Homo sapiens: one gene and its partners. The protein of the gene in region 3 interacts with the protein of the main gene of each other region in a pairwise test. Each region holds a gene or a part of one and is shown on either strand. Other genes may lie near its edges.

Region 1 (7,244 bases), on a different chromosome or scaffold from region 3:
ATAGGAATGGGAGCAGCCACAAACAAACGCACCACGCGTGTGAGGTGGGTCCCAGAGGGGGGCCCCAGATGGGGCCAGTCCTGTGAGGTGTTCCAGCCAGGAGCCCCTTAATCCAAACGGGGAAGGAAGGGTGGAGGCCCCACTGTCTGTTTCCTGGGACCATAGCTGAGACTGTGCCTTCACCGCCACGTCCCTGAGATGGGAGGGGCTGGAGGTGCCCCGCGGCATGTTTTGTGTGGCAACACTGATAACCTAGGTGTGTGACCTGCATAGCCACATTCTTGCAGGTGAGGAGACTGATCTGGGGAGAGGAGCCATATGCCCAGGGTCATCTGAGGTTCAAGGCTAGCCTGCTGTACTTACCCTGGCCAGGGTAGTCGCTGGGGGCAGGGACTGAGGGGGGCTGCAGGGGGGCAAAGGGGGCAGCGCCGGGGCCCAGGGCGGCGATCATCTCCATCACGCTGGGCATGAGCACGTGGGCGGGGCTCACGGTGCGGCAGCGCTTCAGTGCTGGCCCATCCGGCTCCTCCTTGATGTGCATGTCAGGCTTCACGGGCACTGGCTTCCAGCTGCACGTGGGGTCGATGGTGATCTCCTCATAGTCAGAGCTGGGCAGGGACAGGTGGGGAATGGTTACCTCCTGGCCTGCTGCTGGCCCGGCACCCACTGCCCCTCCCAGCCCTGGGCTGTTTCCAGGCAGGTTCCCCCACTCAAATGCTTGCTTCCACCCAGCACCTTCCACATCGAGCAGGACGCTGGGCCCAGCACCAACACTCAGGTAGGACACACACGCTGTCTCTGGCCTGGAATCCAGCCTGCTCCATGCCGGAAAAAGGCTGGAAGGCTGCACTTGGCAAGGGACATCCCCCGACATGTCCTGGGGCTGCCCTCCAGTGGCCACAGATGCAGGGATCACAGGAAGAGGATGCTTACTTCTGAATGTAAATCAGGATGCCCAGCATGTACTGGTCCACCTCCAGGCCCTCCAGCAAAGCTGTCTTGCTGTGGGGAAAAAAAGGGACACAGCTCAGAGACCTTGCACAACCCTGTCCTGGGCACAGGCCCTGTCATTTCTCAGCCCTGTCAGCTGTGACCCTGCATGAGGCAATCCTGTGTGAGGCAACTGAACAAGGTAACTCTGTGTGAGCTGACCCTATGTGAGGTGACAGTACAAGGTGACCCTGTGTGACTGACCCTTGTGTGAGGTGAAAATACGAGGTGATCCTGTGCATGTGGTGACCCTGTGTGAAGTGACTCTGCACAAGGTGACTGCATGAGATGACCCTGCATAAGGCCACCCTATACGAGCTCTCTGCGCTGAGCTGCACAACCCCAGTCCATGCAGTGACTCCTCCCAGCAGGCTCGTATCTTTGATGATGCTGTTGGAGGTTTCACCCATGAAAGCCTCTAAAAGCACCAGCCCCTCCTCCATCACACGCTGCATCTGAGACTCACTTGCACACAGGACACCTCCAAGTCCCCCGCTCACAGTTGAGCTGCAGGTACGACTCCAGGTCAAAGCACTGTAGAGAGATGGGAAGAAAGTCAGTTTCTCATTGTGGGTAGCACAGGGAAAATCTGGTCACTCTGCAATCCCTTTTCAGGAATGTGTGACTTATTTACATGCATAACTGAGATACTGCATGTACCAGGTTTTCACTGCAACATCATTCTAATGGATCAAGGTTGGGAACAGCCCAAACAGCTCTCACTGAGACTGGAATGCCATGTGGCCAAAGCAAGCATCGGGCAGCTGTGCTGACTGGGACCCACTTCCAGAACATGGTATTTTTGTTTTGTTTCGAGACAAGAGTCTCGCTCTGTCACCCAGGCTGGAATGCAGTGGCTCGATCTCAGCTCATTGCAACCTCCGCCTCCCAGGTTCAAGCGATTCTCCTACCTCAGCCTCGTAAGTGGCTGGGATTACAGGCACACACCACCATGCCCCAGCTAATTTTTGTAATTTTAGTAGAGACAGGGTTTCACCATGCTGGCCAGGCTGGTCTCGAACTCCTTACCTCGATCTGCCCACCTCAGCCTCCCAAAGTGCTGGGATTACAGGTGTGAGCCACCGCGCCCAGCCTCAGAACATGGTGTTAAAAGAAGAAAAACGACAGCACAGAGCAGTTTGTGCAATAGGGACCACTATGTAACCACAGAGACAGTGGGCTGTGCATCTACTTGTTCATACCCAGAGTATTTCTGCAAAGACAGATGCTAACGATGGTCACCCTTGGGGGTAGGGCAGGAAGACTGGACCCTGCAATCTTATGCCTTTCAAAACTTGAACCCATGAATGAAGCAGGCAGTAAAAAAGTTAGTAAAATGACAATTATATTTGGAAGAAAAAATAGCCTAGTCTTGGGGGAGCCAGGCCCACCTGCCTCCTTGGCGTGGGAGGCCTGTCCTGTCAGCCTGACAGCCAAGGCACTCGGAGTTCACGTCTGTCCAGAGAATGACACTGATGTATCGACTCAAGATATTTTAGCAGCAGCAAATTCCGGCAAGACTCTGCAGTAACCACCTACCTGTATGTGGCGACAGTCATGACCTCGGGCAGGGAGCTGGATCCTGCGGAAGGTGATGGGGCACTTCAGGGACACCTTGATAGCTGTCTGCTCCACCCCGTCCTCTCCGTTGGGCCCAGGGGTGCCAGGGATGGTGCCGCTGCTGAAGTTCCGCTTTACTGACATCAACAAGGTAAAGGACTTGAGTAAAGGGTCCCCAAGATGGGGAGGTGTGAATGGGGATGCCAACGAGGCAGGGACCCAGTCACTGACCCACTGACAGCTCTGAGGGGCCACCTGGAACTAACCACTGCCCCTACTGCAGAGCCACCTGTCCAAGGAGAAGGCCTGGTGTGACACGAGGAGGTGCCCACAAGGAGGATTGTTGGGCTTGGGCCACACAGAATGGGGATGGCTGCCTGGCAGCTGAGGGGCAGGAGCCACTCACTCTTGGTGATGCAGTGCTCAGCAGGCAGGAGGCGCTTTTTGAGGAGGCCCTGCAGCACCGAGCGGACGGATGGGCGGTGCACTAGCTGCAGCACGAAGAGGTGGGACTGCAATACAACGGGAGGATGTCATCAGGGGGACTTGGGCCAGGGGCCACCCTGGCCAGGTAAAGGGTGTGCTGGGGGTTGTGTGTCAGGGGCTGCCAGGTGGGGGAGGGACAAGGCTGAGGGCAGGGTGAGCTGGGGGTGGGGATTCAGCCAACAAAACTCCTCAGTGGCTTGGCCCCATCCAGCTGCCTTTCCTGGCCTCAGCGCCCTGCCCACGCTTGTATCCATCTCTACAGCTGTGCTGGGCATCCTGCCGGTCTAACCATTGCCTAGTCACCACTTCTCCATGAAGAGAATCACCTCAAGTCCCCTTGAACGTTCCCCCTGCTCGCACATCCACAGTCACAGATGCTGGGTCTGTGTTGACATCTGCCACATCCCAGACAATGTGGTGTGTGGCCAACCCGTCCCCAAGGCCCTCATGCCCAGGCTGACTAGTGCACTCATAAGCCATGTCTTTCTTCTCTAGCCCAAGGGTGACCCTGATGCTTGCTAGAACCGGTAATGCTTGATCAGCCGGGGACTCCGAGCTCCATGAGCTTTCTGCATATCCTGGTTTCTCTTACATAATTAATGTGAGCATCAAATCTAGTCAATTTACTCTAACTGGAAAACAGCTAGGGTATATTACTGGATCGCTTTCTTAAAGGGCAAGGATGACAGATTAAAATAGAAATACAAGGCAGTAACAAAGAGAAGCAACGCATTTTTCTGAAATAATAAAGCCCCCACGTCCTGCTCTCCACCCTGCAAGGGGGCACACATGCTACAGCAGGCGGTGGACAGCAAAACAGCAGACGGCGGCATGATCTGATGGTGCTGCAGGCCGGCCCGCCCATGTCCTGGCTCCGCTCCCACTGCGCCGCTGGGCCAGGCCCCGCCCACACCCCGCCCCACCCCACGGCACCGCTGGGCCAGGCCCCACCACACCCCGCCCCACGCCACAGCACCGCCCCCTCGGCGCAGGACACGCACGCAGCAGCAGGCGGTGACGGTGATCTGGATGGTGTTGCGGCCTGGCTGGCACACATGCTTCAGGTAGAGTGGCTTGTGCGAGGTCTTGTTGTCGCCACGCTCGATGGTGAGCGGCGTGGCATTGACGCTGACCTGCACCGAGGCTGGCCAGTTGGTGTTCATCTGCCGGTCCTCGTGGTGGTAGCACTTGAATTGCAGCTCCAGGTCAGGCCTGCTCAGGAAGATGGGTGGACACCCAGAAAACGGGCCCTGAGAGTGTGGGAGGAGGAACAGAGCCTCGTGGGGGTCAGGTGGGGGCCAGGCGGAGCTCACCTCATTATCAGGGTCTTGTAGACTGAGTCTCGCAGCTGGAAGACATGGTTGCTTACAGCCAGGTTGTGCTGCAGGCGGAAGGGCTCCAGGACCACCCCATCGCGCACAGGGAAGGTCAGCCGCAACTCGTCACAAGGCCCGCTTCCTGGGAGCAGAGGCCACTGGCTGTGAGCTGGGTTGCCCCAGCCAGAGCGTCTTGTGTCACTCAAGGAGGGCAGCGGCTCCCCAGCCACCTTCCCCGCAGGGACCTTGGTGAAGGGAGCCCCTCCTGTCAGGCACTGCTTGGCAGGCCTGAGTGGTGCCCTGGGGCTGGGGCCATGGGCAGCATCTCTCCTGAGGCCTGGGCATTCGGTCGTGATGTTCTGTCTTGCCTCCTGCCTCAGCAGTCCAGCCCAGTGTCCCCTAAACCATAATAGGGGAACATGTCCCCAGCCCAGACAAAAGGTGTTTCCAGTGCTTTCAGAGAGACTGGGAGGCCAAGGTGTGTGAGAGCCTCCTGCAATTGCCCTATAGCTCTGTTTAGAGTTCTACGATCCCAACTTCTGCTGCTGTGGTCTCCCTGGAATGGGCTTCCGGGGTTCATAAATCCCCTGAAATTATATACAACATTTTGTGCACAGGGGAGAGAAGAGCCACAGCCTCCTTTGCAAAGAAAGCCACAAACAGAACAAAAAGGTGAAGGCTTGGCACTAAGCGACTTGTCTTTAAGAAGATGGAATCCTTGGCCTTTTTTTTTTTTTTTTTTAAGACAGGGTCTTGCTTTGGGACCCAGGTTGAAGTGCAGTGGCAAGATCACACTCACGGTAACCTTGAACTCTTGTGCTCAGCCTCCGAAGGTGCTGGGATTACAAGTGTGAGCCACCACACCCAGCCCTTTTCTTAGGGATATGGCAGCCATCCCCTGTCCCCCAAGCTCCTACAGGACTCTCTGGAGTCCTGTGATTCCCCCATGCCCACCCTGGCCTTGTCACCCCGCTGTCCCAAGAGTGGACAGACTTACCAGAGGGCGATGAGTGCAAGGAGTTGAGGTTGGGCTTGAGATCAGGCAAGAAGGGAGACTTGACCTCTTGGTTTGGTGACATGTAAGGGACGCTGCTGCTTGGGGTCATGGGTGGCGTGGGGTTCCCTGGCAGTGGGGAACTGGGATAGCCCGGGATGGAACGGGTAGGCTGTAGGGTTGAGCACAAACAGTCAAGGCAGATTGCCAGGGTGGATGGGAGTGGAGTCTGTTCACGGCGCACCCACTGGGAACCATGATAACAGAGGTGGACAGGAGGCGGCCCCAGGGGTGCCTGCCCGGTCGCCCTCTCTCCATATGCCCACCCTGTGAGCCTCCCGGCCCATCCTCCCGGCCAGGCCCCCTACCCCACTCAGGCCAGGTTGGCTGTAGCTGACGCTGCCCCCGTTGAAGCTGGCGCCCTGCCCGTTGAACTGCTCTGTGGGCTGCGGGAGAGAAAACTGCATGCACCTGGGGCTCCAACCTGACCCCTGCCGGGCCCCCTGGACCTGACCCTAGAAGCCCACCATACACGGTCTTCTTTACACTCTCTTGTATTTTCCAAATAATCTACAAGTAACACTACTTAAAGCAATCATAGCCACAGAGGAAAATGATCAAACAGGTTGGAGGGGCTGAAAAGACAAAAGCACGCTAAGCCCTCCTCCTCTCCTCCCCCAAGCTGCACCACCCGGCGCACCCAGGCTCCCAGGGAGGTAGGCTCTGCCCATGCACCCAGAAAGGGTACATGGCCAGCAGCGAGGGCCTGTCCTCTCAATGGATTTCTCTGCAGCAAGTAGAAGGAATGACACTTTTCCATAAAGAACATTCAAATGTTTTGGGTACCCACCTGCTGCTCCCTGCACAGGATACCCCTGAGATATATGAATCTTGTAGAGGGTCCTTTCGGAACTGGATCCCAAACCCCAGGAGCTGCTCCTGCACTGGTCAGAATGCCCCCACCCCCCACCCCCCATCTCCTGTAGAGCTGTGGTCCATGAGCACACATGGACCTACACATCCTGCTGGCCCCTTTAGCCACCCTGTCGCTCTCGAGGACAGGACTGCCCCAAGGTCCCCTGTCCCACAGCACTCAGCACGGAGCCCGGCACAGGGCCTGGAGGAGCCTGCCCTACCTTATAATGCAGTCCCGTGGGGCCAGGCACGGACAGGGACTGGGTCATGCCCTGCTGCAGGGGCAGCCTGTGCCCAGGGTAGGAAGGGGAGGGGGCAGGGGGCTGCCCAGGGCTGGGCGCAAACTGGGCGGTGCTGGGTGCATACTGGCCTCCTTGCAGATACTGCTGCCCTGGATACACCTGAAAAAGAGGCAAAATGCCCGAGGGGAGAAAAAAGGCATCAGGGGAGCTGGTTCCAGAAGGAAGTAGAGTCTCATGTGTGGCAGGGTTCGGGGAATGGAGATTTCCTGGTTCCCTTGAAGATCCTGCTGTGACACTGTCAGGCACAGGCAGTTCTCACATGCAGAAGCCTGTTTTTTTTTTTTTTTTTTTTTTTAATTTGAGACAGTCTCACTCTGTTGCCCAGGCTGAAGTGCAGTGGTGCAATCTTGGCTCACTGCAGCCTCCACCTCCTGGGTTCAAGCAATTCTCCTGCCTCAGCCTCCCAAGTAGCTGGAATTACAGGTGCACACCACCACGCCCGGCTAATTTTTTTTTTTTTTTTTTTGAGATGGAGTCTTATTCTGTCACCCAGGCTGGAGTGCAGTGGCATGATCTCAGCTCACTGCAACCTCTGCCTGCTGGGTTCAAGCAATTCTCCTGCCTCAGCCTCCCAAGTAGCTGGGACTGCAGGCGCCCGCCACCACACCCGGCTAATGCTTTTTGTATTTTTATTAGAGATGGGGTTTCACCATGCTGGCCAGGCTGGTCTTCAACTCCTGA
Region 2 (7,184 bases), on a different chromosome or scaffold from region 3:
CTATCTGCCCCATCCCCCAGCCAGACACCCCCAGGGAAAACCACACCGACTCCCCTTCAGTGGCCAGGGGAGGGGAGAGAGTGAGGCGCAGGACCGGGCTGGGAGCACAGCGGGAGCTGGAATCACTGGAGAGGGGACTGAAGGTCACCCAGCTGTAGGAAGCACCTGGGGTCAGGCTTGCCAGGAATTCCTAGGGCCCGTCGCTGCCCAGCGACCCACCAGGGATGGTGCCCAGGACGGGGACAGGGGAGGGAGGAAGGATGGAGTGAAGGTAGGGGGTAGCATGGCCATGTGGCCAGAGAGGTTGCGGGGGGCCCAGTCCACACCTGAGGACGTCCTGTCTGGGAGCTGGTGACTGCTGCTTGGAGGGCATCTCTAACAGGGTCACCCCAAGGTGGGTGGCTCTGCTGCCCCTTCCCGGCCCCAGCCCCGGGGAGCACTCAGCTGGCCTTAAAGCAGGTGGGAGGCCAGGAGACGACCACCCAGGGTTTCCCCACTTTCCGGGGCCTTCTCAGCCACTGGCCTGTCCCCGCCAGGCCTCTTCACCCCAAAGCCCTGCTCTGGGCCAGGGAGCCCCTGGCAAGTGGGCCAGAATTCTGAGCATTAACTGTAGCACCCAGGGCCCTGTCCCCACCGACCCAGCACCCAGGGCCCATCCCCACTGACCCAGAACCCAAGGGCCCGTCCCCACCGACCCAGCACCCAGGGGCCCGTCCCCACCGACCCAGCACCCAGGGCCCCGTCCCCACCGACCCAGCACCCAGGGGCCCGTCCCCACCGACCCAGCACCCAGGGCCCCGTCCCCACCGACCCAGAACCCAGGGGCCCGTCCCCACCGACCCAGCACCCAGGGCCCCTCAGGGTACCCAGTGGGCTCATGGGCACATTCATGGGCCTCGCTGTCAGTGTGTTTTCCAGGCACAGTTCCCCATTTTAAAAGCTGAAACTCCTCTCTCCAGGAAGGAATGTCAGTGTGGGAAGGCAGTAGACGGGGCAGAGGAGACCTTGGGCCAACCTGGAGCCCCATCCACATTGAGGGACCCCAGTACAGCCACGTGAGGAGTGCCCACACGGATTCCGCCCACCTCCAGGGCATCCACATGCCCACCGCCCACGCCAGCAGGTGGGCCGCCCCCAGCACTCGGGTTTCAGGAGACAGGAGACTTTTCCGTGTCTTGCTCTCCAGCCCCAGCATGACAGCAAAGGGCCCTCCCGTCTGGCCCGCAGCTTCCACTGGCCCAGAACACGTCTAGGCATCCATGCTCTGAAGCCAGCTCCGACCAGGAACCGCCTGCCCAAACCGGGCTGTGGCTACACGGTGGGGTGCAGACTCCCGGGGGGACCTCGTCACAGGCCCTGCTGGAGGGCTTGGCGCGCTTCCCCCAAGTCTGGGCCTGACTCCACCCTGGAGCTCAACTGGACTCCCTGCTTAGGGGGATGCAAGGCTGGGTCTGGGGTCTCTCTGAGTGGTCCCCCTGAGCACTGCCCCTGCCAGGGGCTGGCTCCTGCCTGGCGTGTCCCCAGGGGACCCCAGGCTTCTAGCTGTAGCCTGGAGAATGCCCAACTCTATGGTCAGCTGTGCAGGCCTCACCCAAGGCTAAGGTCTTGGACACCCGTCTCTCACAGCTCCACACACACACTCTCTCACAGCTCCACACACTCACACTCAAACTCACTCCAGCCAGGGCTGCTATCCATCCCCCTCACAGCACGGCCGCCCTGGAGCACATGCGGCCCTGCACAGCCGATCAGATCAGCGGAGGAAACCCTTGAAAATCCTTTAGGGCAGGCCCCTGGCAGCAGCTGCCAGCAAAATCACCCTCACGCCCCTCCCCTGCGTGGGGCCCAGGAGCCAGGCTAGGGGCTCAGCGCTCCATCCAGGACGGCACAATGGGGCTGTGTCTGGGACCAAAGCAGAGAGCAGACCGGAGGCAGCAAGGCCTCTGTCCGCCGTGCCGCCACCAGTACCTCATTTCGGGTGCCCCAGGCAGAGGCTTGCTGCTTGGCTGGGGCCAGAGAATCCTTGGGGGCCAGGCTAGGCGCCCCCCGGGATCAGCTGCTGGGACCCCTATCAGGGAGGTCACCAGGTTTTAGGGATGTCCAGAGGACAATAGTGTCCCTCGCTCTGGGGAGCCAGGCCTGCCTCTGACGGCTGCCACCCATTCGCAAGCCCCTGCCTGGACCTCACGCTCGTGTGGCTCTGCCTGAGGCCTGGTACCACCCAGCCTTGCTTGGGGCTCCAGGCACCTGCCCGGCTGGGCCCAGGGCAGCCCCTGGGGGGACATTGGGAGTCACCAGGCAGGCATGCCACCTGGGGCAGGGCCACCCTGTCATCCCCAAAGGCGTGGGGCACAGAGCCCAGTCACTGGGATCACCCAGGAATGTGCCCGGAGAGTAGATGCCTTTTCAGGCAGGTACACACCCACCTGGCTGGCTCCCTTCCAACCCAGCTGGATCCCACTGGGCTCGTGGAGGGCTGGTGAGGGGCAGAGCCCCATCCAGAGCAGCCAGGTCTCTTTGGCCATGATGCCCCTGAGTGCCCCGGGCATGGCAGGGCCAGGCTTGGGAGGGAAGCACCCCACGGTGCCCCTGCCAGGTGCCAGGGGAGTGAGGCTGGAGAAGCTGCCCACCCCGCCTCCAGCCCCCCGGCCCCCCACCCCCTTCCCCTTGGCTTGGGGGAAAGAGGGCTTCAGGGGACGCCCACGCGGGCACACGCCGGGCTGGGCTCGGCCTGGAGGGAGGGGCGCGTCCTCAGCCACGCTGCGCGCCCGCGAGAGCTGCCTTTGTTCCCAACTGCAGCCTCCCCCGCGTCCCGACCCGGCCCGGTCCGGTCCCAGCCCCGGCCCCGGCCCCGGCCCCGGCCCGTCCTACCTGGAGTAGAGGCGCCTGGCGGCCGGGCCCGGGAGCTCGTCGGCCGCGGGCGGGGCCGGGCCCGCCATGGGTCGGGGACGCGGGAGCGGGAGCCGGGAGCGCCCCCCGCGCCGTGGCCGTCCGCCCCCTGCCCGCCCTGCTGTCCTCCCTGCTGTCCGCCCTGCTGTCCGCCTGTCCGTCCGCGCCTCGTTCGCCCGTCCTCCCCCGGGGAGGCGCCGAGGAAGTGATGTGCGCGGGGCGCCGCCGCCCCTCCCGCCGCCGTGGCCGTGATGTCACCGCCGCCCGCGCGGGGAGGGGGCGCGGACCGGGCGGCCACCGCCGCGTGCCTCCCTCTGCGGGGGGCGGGGCGGACGCGGGGGGAGGGGCGCCGTGAGGCGGGCAGTCCCCGGGGAGGGGGGAGGGGGGAGGGGGTGTGGGCCCCAGCCCACCCCACCCCAGGGAATGCAGGGGAGAGGGCCTGGGCCTGGCCTTGCTGCTGGTCCCCTGGGGACTTCTGAGGGCCCGCGGGGGTCCCTGGGTCACAGTGCAGCCACACTGGCCTCTGGGCTCCTTTCATCCACAGGCCGCCTGGTGAGCCCCGCAGCCTCACCCACGTGGGGAGGGGCTGCTGAGGCCTCCTTGCCTTTCTTGGTGGGCGCCCTACGCCTCGGGGGTCCTACCCTCCTCTTCTGTGCAGCCCCAACGTGGCTTTGCCCCCTTCTCCAAACTTCTGCCTTGGGCCATGGGGCGCAGGCCGTGGGGATGCTGTCTGCCTGCTTTAGAGAAACCTGGGGCACCGATGACAAATACAGGCTCTGCTTGGCCTGTGGGACGGTTGGTAAGCCCCCCACCTCTGAGACCCTGGGTGGCCACATTCCCCTCCCAAGCTCCCCCGGAATGGGGATGCAGCCTGCCCCTTCCTTCCTCCTGGGCACTGTGCAGGCTTAGGGAGGATGCAGGTGGCACAGTAGGCTGTGCCCACCCGGGGTCCCGGGACCCCAGCCCCTACCGCCTCCTCCTCCTCCTCTGAATTCTTGGAGCCCTGTGGGCCTATGTGGTGTGACGTGGCTTCCCCTCCACCCACCCTCAGCTCCCGATGGCTTGGGGGGTTCTCCGCAGCCAGCGAGGCCCACAGCCGGCCTCCCCGGGTTCTGTCCTGCCCCCGACAGCATCCTGGGCCTTCCGGTGGTGTCAGGAGACTCCAGGCCCTTGAAAGGCAGCTGCGACCCCGGGTATGACTCGGAGAAGTCCAGGAGCAGGAAATGGGCTGCATTCCTTCGGGGCCCCTCCGTGCACCCCAGCCCCTCCCTGGGAGAGCTGCCCTGAGGTCAGGAAAGTGCCGTCCTGGCAAGACCCTCAGCAGCTGCCGCCCACAGGACAGTCAGCGTTTTCAAGCATGGGAAGGAAAATAAACACGAGGTTAAAAAGGGGTCTGTTGGCCCCGGGCTGGTTTGTTTTTCCTGTGTAAGGGAGGCAACGGGAATGAGAACCATCTGTGCCCTGAGCGCAGCGCAAGCTGCCTGCTGGGCCCACGTGCCCTCCCCCAAAGACCACAGAAGCCAGGCAGAGCCTTGCTCCCTTCCAGCCGGGGCCGTGGCTGCTGGCCGGCAGGGACAGTGGTGTTGGCTGGGGCACCACCCTCCTTTGCCACAGCCCTGGGCCTGGCTGCGGGCAGAGAACAGGCCTTCGATTGAAGCTCCAACCTTCCGGGCCACCTCCTTTGGGCTTCGGGCACCTGAGCCAGCATCCCATTGTAAGGGCAGGGGCTGCTGGGGGCCCTGCCTGTGCCAGGCCTCAGCTCAGCCCTCTTTCCCCAGGCGCTGCTGCCATCAGGAGGCCCACAGAGGGTCCACACCAACACTGTGAGCCCCTTGTGGGTCCCCTGGGTTAGTGGTGGGAGGCTGGTGAAGAGAAGTGGGGACAAAAGACATTGCACAAATGGTGGAGGGAGGGAGAGATTTGCAGCCTCGTAGCTGTCATTGCTGGGGGAGCTTCTCCTGGTCTCCTTCCTTGATGCAGAGAGCTGGGAGCTTGTGTCCCTGGGCCGGGAGAGCCCCAACATTATATCAGAACTTGTGGGGAAACCTGCACCCCCGAGGGCTCTGGCTTTGTTAGGCCGAGCTGGGCTATGAGGCTGTGTGACCTGGCACAAGTTGCTTTCCCTCTCTGAGCCTCGGTTCTGTCACCTGAGGGCTGCCCGTCCCGCAAGGTGTGGAGGGTCACTGAGGCGTGGGGTTTCTGCGGTGCTTGTCCATGTGCCTGGCACACAGTGGGGTTTGTGCAGTGCTTGTCCATGTGCCTAGTGGCTCACAGTGGGGTTTGTGCGGTGCTTGTCCGTGTGCCTGGCACACGGTGGGGTTTGTGTGGTGCGTGTCCATGTGCCTGGCACACAGCGAGAGCTGCTGGGGTCATGTTGCTCTCACACTCGTGCCTGCCCCTGCTGGGCCCCTGCAGTGGGTCCTGGCTGGATTGGGGGTACATCCCCACCACACTGCACAGAGGGGCGTCTCCTCCTATCCAGGGACCTGATTCTCCTGTCGAGAAAACCTATGAAGGGGACCCAGAGATGGAGTGTGACAAGGCCAGGTGACAGGCCTGACATGTGGTGTCCACATCCAGAAGGGAGACCCTGGAGGGATGACCCTCCACTGCCACCCCCTCCCATCAGGCTCTGGACACCCTCGAGCCTCCCACCATCCACCTTACCAGATCCCCCCAAGAGTCCGGGAAGCTCACTCCCCCAGGGGACCAGGAGCACAGCCCCTTCCATTCCTAACGGGCCTGACTCCCAAAGGGGGGTGAGGAAAGAAAAAGCCATTTCACATCGACTTATTCTTCTGGCCCCAGGCAGCAGCACAGGGCGCAGGGTGGGCCTCTGCAGACACGATGGCTCCGTGGTCAGGGAGGGGCCACCTCCCATGTGCCTGGGGAGGGGCCCTCCCAAGCCCCTGCGTGGCAGCGCCAAGGGGTTGGAGTCAGCCCCAGCACACACAGGGCCCTGCTCACTGGTGGCCATTGTCAGCGCCACCTCCACCTTCAGGAGCCTGCCACGTGCCTGCCCTCGGTCACTTAGCCCTCCCTGGCACGCACCACTTTGTCCACACACCCTGTGTGTAAGTGGTGACAGCGGTGACAGCTCAGGCGTCACCTGATCGGGCCGACTCTAAGCCTTAGTCCTTCCTTGTCCTGTTGCGCCGGACAAGCCTCTGGGAGGCGACGGTGGGACAGCCACAGGGTTCTTGGCTCAGCCCCCAGGAGTGGGGAGCTGGGGCTCTGGACGGAGGTGGGCACTCGAGGCTGGTGTGGCCTCCTGGGTGAGGGCCAGGCTCGGGAGAGGCAGCCAGGCGGCCCCAAGCCACCCCAGGAACAAAGCACCAGCACACACCTCCACTGGTTTGCTAGGGCTGGGAGAAGTTGGAGTGTTTCTGTGGTGGCTGTGGCAGCCCACGGCCCCAAGACCCTGGCTTCCTTCTGCTCCCACCTTTTCAGGCCCCTTCCCCAACAAGCAGCTACTGTAGGACCCAGTGGGGGCTAGGGCACCAGCAGCTGCCATTACCCATGCTGGGTCCTGATGGTTCCTGACCAGCCTCAACCGTGGATTCCAAGCTGGGGAAGGAAGAAGCAGGCCGGGAGTGGGGAGGGAGACAGTGAAGGACACCCAAACACACACACACACACACACACACACACACACACACACACACACACAGAAGGAACAGTTTCAGCTTTGTTTCCCAGTAATCTCACTTAAAAAGAACACTTGGGTTTACCATGTTCACATAATCTCGTTGCTCTGAGAATGAACTTATTCTTCCTCCCAGCTTGGCCATGTGTTCCTCCCCATTGCCCAAGTCCCCTCATGACATCATCTCCCACTGCCATGTCCTTTCCTTGGGGACCTCCAAGTCCCTGGAGTTTGGGGACTGCAGGGTGGGTGGAGGGGCCCACAAGCTCTGCAGGGAGCCAGAAGGAAACGGTCTGTCCCACCCCAGGGCTGAGCACCTCGCTGGGAGATGATACCCACACCTGGAAATAGCTCAAGGGCCGCGTGAGGCCGCACGACACCCACGCCAGTATGAGACACCTGGCCATGCGGCATTCCTGGCCGACTGCTGGCAGCTGCAGACTTTGTCAGCCAGGTGATGTCCCCGGGATCTCTGGGCAGGCAGGGCACACAGGAGGCAGCTCACGCTCACTCATCATGGCGAGGCAGGTCGTGTGGAACTTCCTTGGTCTTCCTCATCTGCGCCCCACCCAGCCTGGCAGATGGTGATGCTGTGAGTGCCAGGGAAACACACACACGCACACACACACACATGCACACATGTACAGAC
Region 3 (7,319 bases):
TGGTAACCAGACTTGTACCCGATATTATTAATACATTCCTGATTTCACACACACACAAAGTGTGTTTGGTGGTTGTTTTTTAAGTACCGTGGTGGGGAGGAAGGGGAATTTTTTTTTTTAATCAAAGCAAATAGTTTTGTTTTTGTTTTTGTTTTTTTGTTTCTTTGTTTGCCTATTTCCTTTAACCTGACAAGTATGCGTACCAATGGCTAGGCTGATTCGGATAGGTGGCCAGTTGTGTGAACACGGTGGCAAAATTAAATTGGACTAGAGTTTTCCACAAAAAACAAAAAAAAGACCCCTCCAATCCAAACATCCTTTGTGTAAAAATCAACTTGTATTATAACTAGACCTGTGAGTATTTCAAGTCATAATATGTACGGAAGATATTTGTCTACACCAAAGCAAAACATAACAAAACCAGAACCCCTGTTAGCCCAGGACTTGCACACATTTCTAGTCCGTTCAAAACAATGTTTATGTCAAAGCCTGTCATATCAATTTCCTGGAAAGTATAATGTAAACATTCTTACATTAATTTACCTATTTTAATCTAAACCAAGGAAATTCAAACGCAAGTTTTTTTCCTTTTCAATGAATGGACTTTTGTAATATTAAACTAGTAATCAAGACAGGAACAGCTGTGAGTATAAGCTATTGTGAGTCAATACAAATATAATACCAGGGCAAGAAAGAAACAATGAATAATAAGAAGCAATAAACAAAATACTACAGTTTAAATGAATTTTAAGAGAATATTTAAAAATTAGAGTTTTCATAATATTAGATAGAAAACTTAATCATCTATTATTTTCAGGCTTTGGGGGAAAACATGTCCTTCCAAAGTCTATGGTGCAATGCATTCAAATCTTTAAGAGAAATTAAAAATAACAGAATAGGCAAAATACCTTTTATCTGGTTTTTTTTTTACTTTGATTAGCTTCTTTTACTAACATGTTTTGTCTTAATATAATTTATGGCAACTTGAAATGCATACTCTAATTCTTCTCAAACTAAATATAGTAGAGGCTCTATGACATTTCTTTGGATACCAGAATCCCTTTAGAAATTAATTGATTTGCCTTTTACATAAAAAAGTTTTATTTATTTATGTTTTTGACGGGTCAGGTCTCTCTAGGAACATTCCAAAAGCACAGAGACAAGAACTATTCTAGCACTGCAATAAGACCAAAAATTAATTTCTATGCATTTTCAGAGGTAACTTTAAATCACCATTTTAAAGTTATTTTTAGAACATTTGAAAGGATAAGTTATCTTAGACTACAACATTTAATGAAATACTATAATTAAAATGGATAATCAATAAATTTTCATTCAATTTTGGAAGACAAAACAACACGAAAAGCAACTGAATCAACAGGAGTTTCGGGGACCTTTGGCAGACAGTTAATAAGATGAAAAATCTGTGAATGAAACTCGTGGGTGAAGAGTAGACAGATCTCTTCGTTCCCAGCTAGACCTCAGTGGCGACCATTTGAGAGTGATTTTAATCAGAAACCTTGACTGACAGGACCTTTTAGGAGGGGAGAACTTCGGGAGAAAGGAGGCTGGGAATGAACAAATCACTTTCTTCTGCTAGGACCCTTCGGCTTTGACTGGGAGGAGGACCCCAGCTAGAAGATAAAGGAGGAAAAAATCGCGAGGAACTGCTCGAAGTTGGCCTTTCTTCCCAACAGAGTTCGCTGGTCCGCTGCCACTGGCAGGCTTCTCTGACCGACTGGGATACTTTTTCTTTCTTCTTTCCTTTTCTTTTTTTTTTCTTTTTCTTTTCTTTCTCCTTCCTTGCTTCCTTCCTCTCTCTCTCTCTCTTTCTTTCTGTCTTTCTTTCCTTCCTTTTTTTTTTTTTTTTTTTTGAGACAGGGTCTCGTTCTGTCGCCCAGGCTCGGCGCTATCTCAGGTTACTGCAACCACTGCCTCCTGGATTCAAGCGATCCTCCCGCCTCAGCCTCCCAAGTAGCTGGGACTACAGGCACACGCCACCATGCCCGGCTTTTTTTTTTTTTTTTTTTTTCGAAGAGACAGGGTTTCGCCATGTTGCCCAGTCTGGTCTTGCACTCCTGGGCTCAAGCGATCCTCCCGTCTCGGCCTCCCAAAGTGCTGGGATTACAGGCATGAGCCACTGCGCCCAATCGCGGGATGGACTTTTCTAAGCAAGCCTCACTGTGCCTTTGGCGCGGGAAGTAAAAGGACAGGGAGCGTGGACCACCCTTAGCTTCCTGATGTGGTTTCGCTCTTCCTTTATCCGCCTTTTGCCAACCGAAGGCACTAATCCTGCAAGAGGCGTTGGCATGGGCGCCCTCCTGGCCGAGTCCCGGGCAGCACCCGTCCGTGCGCTCAGCACGGGCTTTGCGGTGCCAAGGCCTAGGGTGCGTCGCTTCCCGGGTCTGGAGGGTCATGGATTCGGTTCATCCTCCTCTATCAAGGGATCTGCCGTGAGGAGTTGGCTCCTCTTCTCTGGCTGGGGCTGGGAATGGAAGCGTGCAGCTGCAAAACAAGGACGCGGGCAATAAATTCCAGAAGCCCTTTCCCCTGGCCGCCAAGAATCCGGCCTTGGGGTAGTCAAAGAGTGACTTTAGTCACTTCAATCGGTTTTGTTTTGTTTTGTTTGTTTTTTGTTTTTTGTTTTTTTTATATATATATATACTGAGGGTCTCCATGTGCCGGAGTAGCCCTGGGCGAGTCGGCTGCTCAGATGATGAAGGTTTCGTCCCAGCCCCGGAGAACCCACATTGTCCTGCGCACCTCCGCACCACCGCGATTCTCTAGTCCTCCAAAGCCTCCCAAGACTGTAATGGAGTAAATTCAATTTCGTCGTGATATTTCCAAGACTATATCAGTGAAGTTTTTTTTTAAGAGTTGTGGGCCGGGCGCGGTGGCTCACGCCTTTAATCCCAGCACTTTGAGAGGCCGAGACAGGAGGATCACGAAGTCAAAAAATCGAGACCATCCTGGCCAACTTGGTAAAACCCTGTCTCTACTAACAATACAAAATTAGCTGGTCGCGATGGCGCGCCTGTAGTTCCAGCTACTCGGGAGGCTGAGGCAGGAGAATCGTTTGAACCTGGGAGGCGGAGGTTGCAGTGAGCCGAGATTGCGCCACTGCACTCCAGCCGGGAAGACAGAGTGAGACTCCGTCTCAAAAAAAAAAAAAAAAAAAAAGATTTGTGTTCGGGTGGGTGGCAACTGAGAGCTCGCCGAACCACAACCTCTTATTTAACAGATAAACAGATAAGGAAGCTGAGACCCAGAGGGAGCCAAAGCAGTGGAGAAAGCGAGTTCTTTGGGACTTTTCCCCTCTCCCCTTTCCCTCCTTCCCCAGGCTCCCACCTACCCCAGGCTCCCACCTACCCCGGGCTCATTTCCGCCCCCCACCTCCTCCAGGTTCACTTTGTAGGACTCCGTTCCTGCAGGGCCAGGTCCCTCCGAAGTCCCCGGGAGCGTGAAGGCGCCTGGGCTCGCGAGCATACGCGGAGGCTTGGCGCACCCTGGCACGTCCCAAACAGCAGAGCCAAGACTGCGAGACACTCACAATAGTTAGGGGAAGAGCCGGCAGTGGAGGCCCAAAATGGGCTGACCCCTAACTAGGAGGCGTGGGCGCGGTTATTCAGGCTAGGGCGCACGCGGACGGCAGAGGGGCCCACGCACGGTTCCCATGCTCTCCTGGAATTGAGTGTTGGCTCTCAGGGGACTTTGCTGGAAAGCCTCCATCTAAGCCCCTTTCCGAAATCAGGGAAGCTGGACGCGTTTAGAAAAAAGAAAAAAAATAGGCCGGTCGCGGTTGCTCACGCCTGTAATCCCAGCACTTTGGGAGGCCCAGGCGGGCAGATCGTCAGGAGTTCAAGACCAGCTTGGTCAGGGTTTCGCATGGCTAAAACCTGTCTCTACTAAAAATACAAAAATTAGCCAGGGTGGTGGCACGGACCTGTATTCCCAGCTACTCGGGAGGTTGAGGCAGGAGAATCGCTTGAACCTGGGAGGCAGAGGTTGCAGTTAGCTGAGATGGCGCCACTGCACTCTAGCCTGGGCAACAGAGTGAGACAAAAAAGAAGAAAAGAAAAGAAGAAAATAATAAGGTTTTAAACTTAAAGGATACATTCCTACTTACCCTCTCCACCCCCACCCTCTGGCTGCAGTTTCCATTTGCTTCCAGGGCTGAGTTTAACCTCCACCTCCGTTCCTGGGACTGTGGTGGAGGGGGCGACCGGCCCCTGGAGCGTGGGCGCTAGCGAGGTAGGCGAGACAGGGCGGAGCCCCCCGGAGGTATATCTTTATAAAGGAGGGGGCAGCTGCCAGAGGTCGATGCTGCCGTTCGGGTGGAGAACGTTCAGCACCGCGGCCAAGGACAAGGCCCCGCCCGGGTCCATAACCATTGTCCCCAGCTTCCAGATATCTAAACAGCCTCTCTCTCTTTCTCTCTCTCTGCACCTCCCCTTCACACACCCCACTTTCTTCTTTAAAGAGAAGAAAAAAAACCCACCTGGCGCACCTGTCCTTTTTTCTTCTATTTTTCAGAACCCTGGGCGGAAAGCGCGAGCGAGTTGGGCAGATGCCGGCGGCCGCGGTGCAGGAAGCGGTCGGCGTGTGCTCCTACGGGATGCAGCTCAGCTGGGACATCAACGATCCGCAGATGCCTCAGGTAAGTGAACCGGGTGTGTGCGGGCACGCGGGGCGCTGTCCATCCGAAGGAGGGAGAATGGCATTCGAGTTCTTGAAGAGTCTGCGGACGGACCATACACACACACACACACACACACACACACACACACACACACACACACACACACATACCCGCAAAATTTCTGGGTTTCTGAGGCCCTCTCAAGTGTAGAAAGAAAACTGGACTCTACAAAAGGCTGAGTTGGGTTTAGAAATGTGTCTTCTTGGCCGGGCGCTGTGGTTCATACCTGTAATCCCAGCACTTTGGGAGGCTGAGGCGGGTGGATCATCTGAGGTCGGGAGTTCAAGACCAGCCTGACCAACATGGAGAAACCCCGTCTCTACCAAAAATACAAAATCAGCCCAGCGTGGTGGCGCATGCCTAAAGTCGCAGCTACTCGGGAGGCTGAGGCAGGAGAATCGCTTGAACCCGAGAGGCAGAGGTTGCGGTGAGCCAAGATCACGCCATTGAACTCCAGCCTGGGCAACAAGAGCAAAACTCCATCTCAAAAAAAGAAGAAGAAGAAGAAGAAGAAATGTGTCTTCTCCCAGCAATTTCCTTGTGCTTGCCTGAAATCACAAGCAAAGCAGCAGGAAATGTTGGTCAGGCTCCACATTCCCAGTCTTGGGGAGAGCGGGACGCCTGTCCTTTCACTTCCCTTTAACCAAGGTAGAAATTAGGTGCCTCTCTCCTTATTCATTTACTTTAAATCCATGAGGAAGCTAAGGAGAAAATCTAAGCAGATGTAAATACCACTGCTTCTCATGCAGCAAAACTGAGGTACAACTGTAAAGTGAATCTAATGACCTAAATTTAAAACAAGTAGCCCGACTTGAGCAATTTGCTCAGACCTCCCTAACTGCTCAGAGGAAGGAGGCCCCATAGTCATGCCAACAAGGCCACCTGTACCCAAAACTTACTTCTTCTCTAATGACAAGCAAATCATCATTCTTTTAGGGTGAATTTGTTGTATTTTGCTTTATTTCAATAAAGCAAAAATGGTTTGGAGCCAAGTCCAAAGAATGACTGGGGTGGATGAAGTGGTGAATGAAGTGGGTGGTTTGAAGCCAGTTCCAGAGAATGACCAATTATCATTAGTCACACTGGTTAGGGCCAAAATTGAGTGATGTTGAAGTCCTGGCTGTAGGGGGTGGGGGGTGTAGAATGAGAGTTGCTTCCCTGCCATTTGCAGATGTGGGCTTCCAGCAATGTTGTGGCACAGGGATAAAAGAGATGGGTCATTTTGTCCGCAACTAAAATGTGTCTGATAGGTGTTCAGATGAATAACAATTCATTGCAACATTGTGTCGCCTCTCATAGAGGTCAGCACTTTTTTGGATCCATATATTTGTAGTAGGTTAGGTGTGTTTTACTCCTTTGTTTTTGTTTGTTTGTTGGGGTTTTTTGTTGTTGTTTGTTTGTTTTTTGAGGCGGGGTTTAGCTCTTGTTGCCTAGGCTGGGGTGCAATCACACGATCTCAGCTCACTGCAACCTCCATCCCCCAGGCTCCAGCGATTCTCTTGCCTCAGCTTCCCGAGTAGCTGGGACTACAAGCATGCGCCACCACGCCCAGCTAATTTTGTATTTTTAGTAGAGATTGGGTTTCTCCATGTTGGTCAGGCTGGTCTCGAACTCCTGACCTCAGCTGATCCACCCGCCTTAGCCTCGCAAAGTGCTGGGATTACAGGCGTGAGCCACCGTGCCTGGCCCACTCCTTTGTTTTAAAGTCTGCCTACTTTAGAGTCACATGGTACCATTTTCATGAAAGTGGACCACAGTACAGCAAGTGCATCTCATTCTGTTTCTGTCCATGTACATCTTCACAGGAAACAATCATATCTTGCATTTTAGAAAAGTCACATCCAAGTAATGTAATTATGGTTCATCTCTCAAGCATTTGCTAGACTTCCCATGTCAATATGAACTTTTTTTTAGGAGACTGGTTGTTAAGCAGGAAGCATGTGTGTAATATCTCAAACGGGCCAGGCACACTGGGACATGGAGAAGTGAAGAAACTTAGCATCGCCCTGCTCTGGGTAACCGAGTGAGCAAGTTAAACTACCTGTCTGACCTTGAGAGAGTCCTTGAATTTGCCTTAGTCTCAGGCTACTTACTCACTTGTCATCAAGTGGTAGAGTGAGATAACCATCTCAAACTCTCCTCCAGGTCTACGATCAGGTTCAGTGTCTATGTGTGTGTATGTACACACACACACAACATGCCAACACTTGAGAGCAAGTGAAACCCAATCCTTGACATCCTCTATTCTTGTACTGATTTTAAAAATACAATCTCTGTGGCTTCATTGCCAGGGTCACTACCTCAGTAGCTCGTGTGAGGCATGGGGGCCTAGTCTACATCCTTAAGGGAGAGCTAAAGAAATGCTGTTTTCTGGAAAATTGTCAATTTGTTACTAAGATCCTTAAGTTAAAATATTCACTTTTAAAACAAAGATATTAGCATTTAATATAAGCTTGGAGTTGATAGCACATCATTATATATTTCATTTGTGACTTACCTTACATTGATGTATCATGTCAATTGTAATATTTCAGAGAAAAGATAAATAATACCTATGGTAGTAATAATGATTTCAACAATATCTTTGTAATTTTGGAAACAAAATCACCCATTAACCTTA

The links. The genes of interacting proteins can lie anywhere in the genome.
Region 1: the proteins of GCM2 (region 3) and ZMIZ2 interact in binary tests that used the Homo sapiens proteins (3 or more experiments, as listed by UniProt).
Region 2: the proteins of GCM2 (region 3) and GPSM1 interact in binary tests that used the Homo sapiens proteins (3 or more experiments, as listed by UniProt).

The regions. Positions count from the first base shown.
Region 1 is NC_000007.14:44,758,699-44,765,942, reverse strand, and holds part of ZMIZ2 (zinc finger MIZ domain-containing protein 2), read right to left. Parts: intron 6,663-7,244; coding exon 6,483-6,662; intron 6,380-6,482; exon of another isoform or gene 6,368-6,379; coding exon of another isoform or gene 6,197-6,367; intron 5,793-6,196; coding exon 5,715-5,792; intron 5,519-5,714; coding exon 5,350-5,518; intron 4,522-5,349; coding exon of another isoform or gene 4,495-4,521; coding exon 4,350-4,494; intron 4,249-4,349; coding exon 4,038-4,248; intron 3,063-4,037; coding exon 2,957-3,062; intron 2,688-2,956; coding exon 2,530-2,687; intron 1,525-2,529; coding exon 1,457-1,524; intron 1,003-1,456; coding exon 934-1,002; intron 609-933; coding exon 364-608; intron 1-363. UniProt on the Homo sapiens protein: Increases ligand-dependent transcriptional activity of AR and other nuclear hormone receptors.
Region 2 is NC_000009.12:136,323,451-136,330,634, reverse strand, and holds the start of GPSM1 (G-protein-signaling modulator 1), read right to left. Parts: upstream 3,097-7,184; 5' UTR 2,940-3,096; coding exon 2,872-2,939; intron 1-2,871. UniProt on the Homo sapiens protein: Guanine nucleotide dissociation inhibitor (GDI) which functions as a receptor-independent activator of heterotrimeric G-protein signaling.
Region 3 is NC_000006.12:10,879,042-10,886,360, reverse strand, and holds the start of GCM2 (chorion-specific transcription factor GCMb), read left to right. Parts: upstream 1-4,319; 5' UTR 4,320-4,567; coding exon 4,568-4,657; intron 4,658-7,319. UniProt on the Homo sapiens protein: Transcription factor that binds specific sequences on gene promoters and activate their transcription. Through the regulation of gene transcription, may play a role in parathyroid gland development.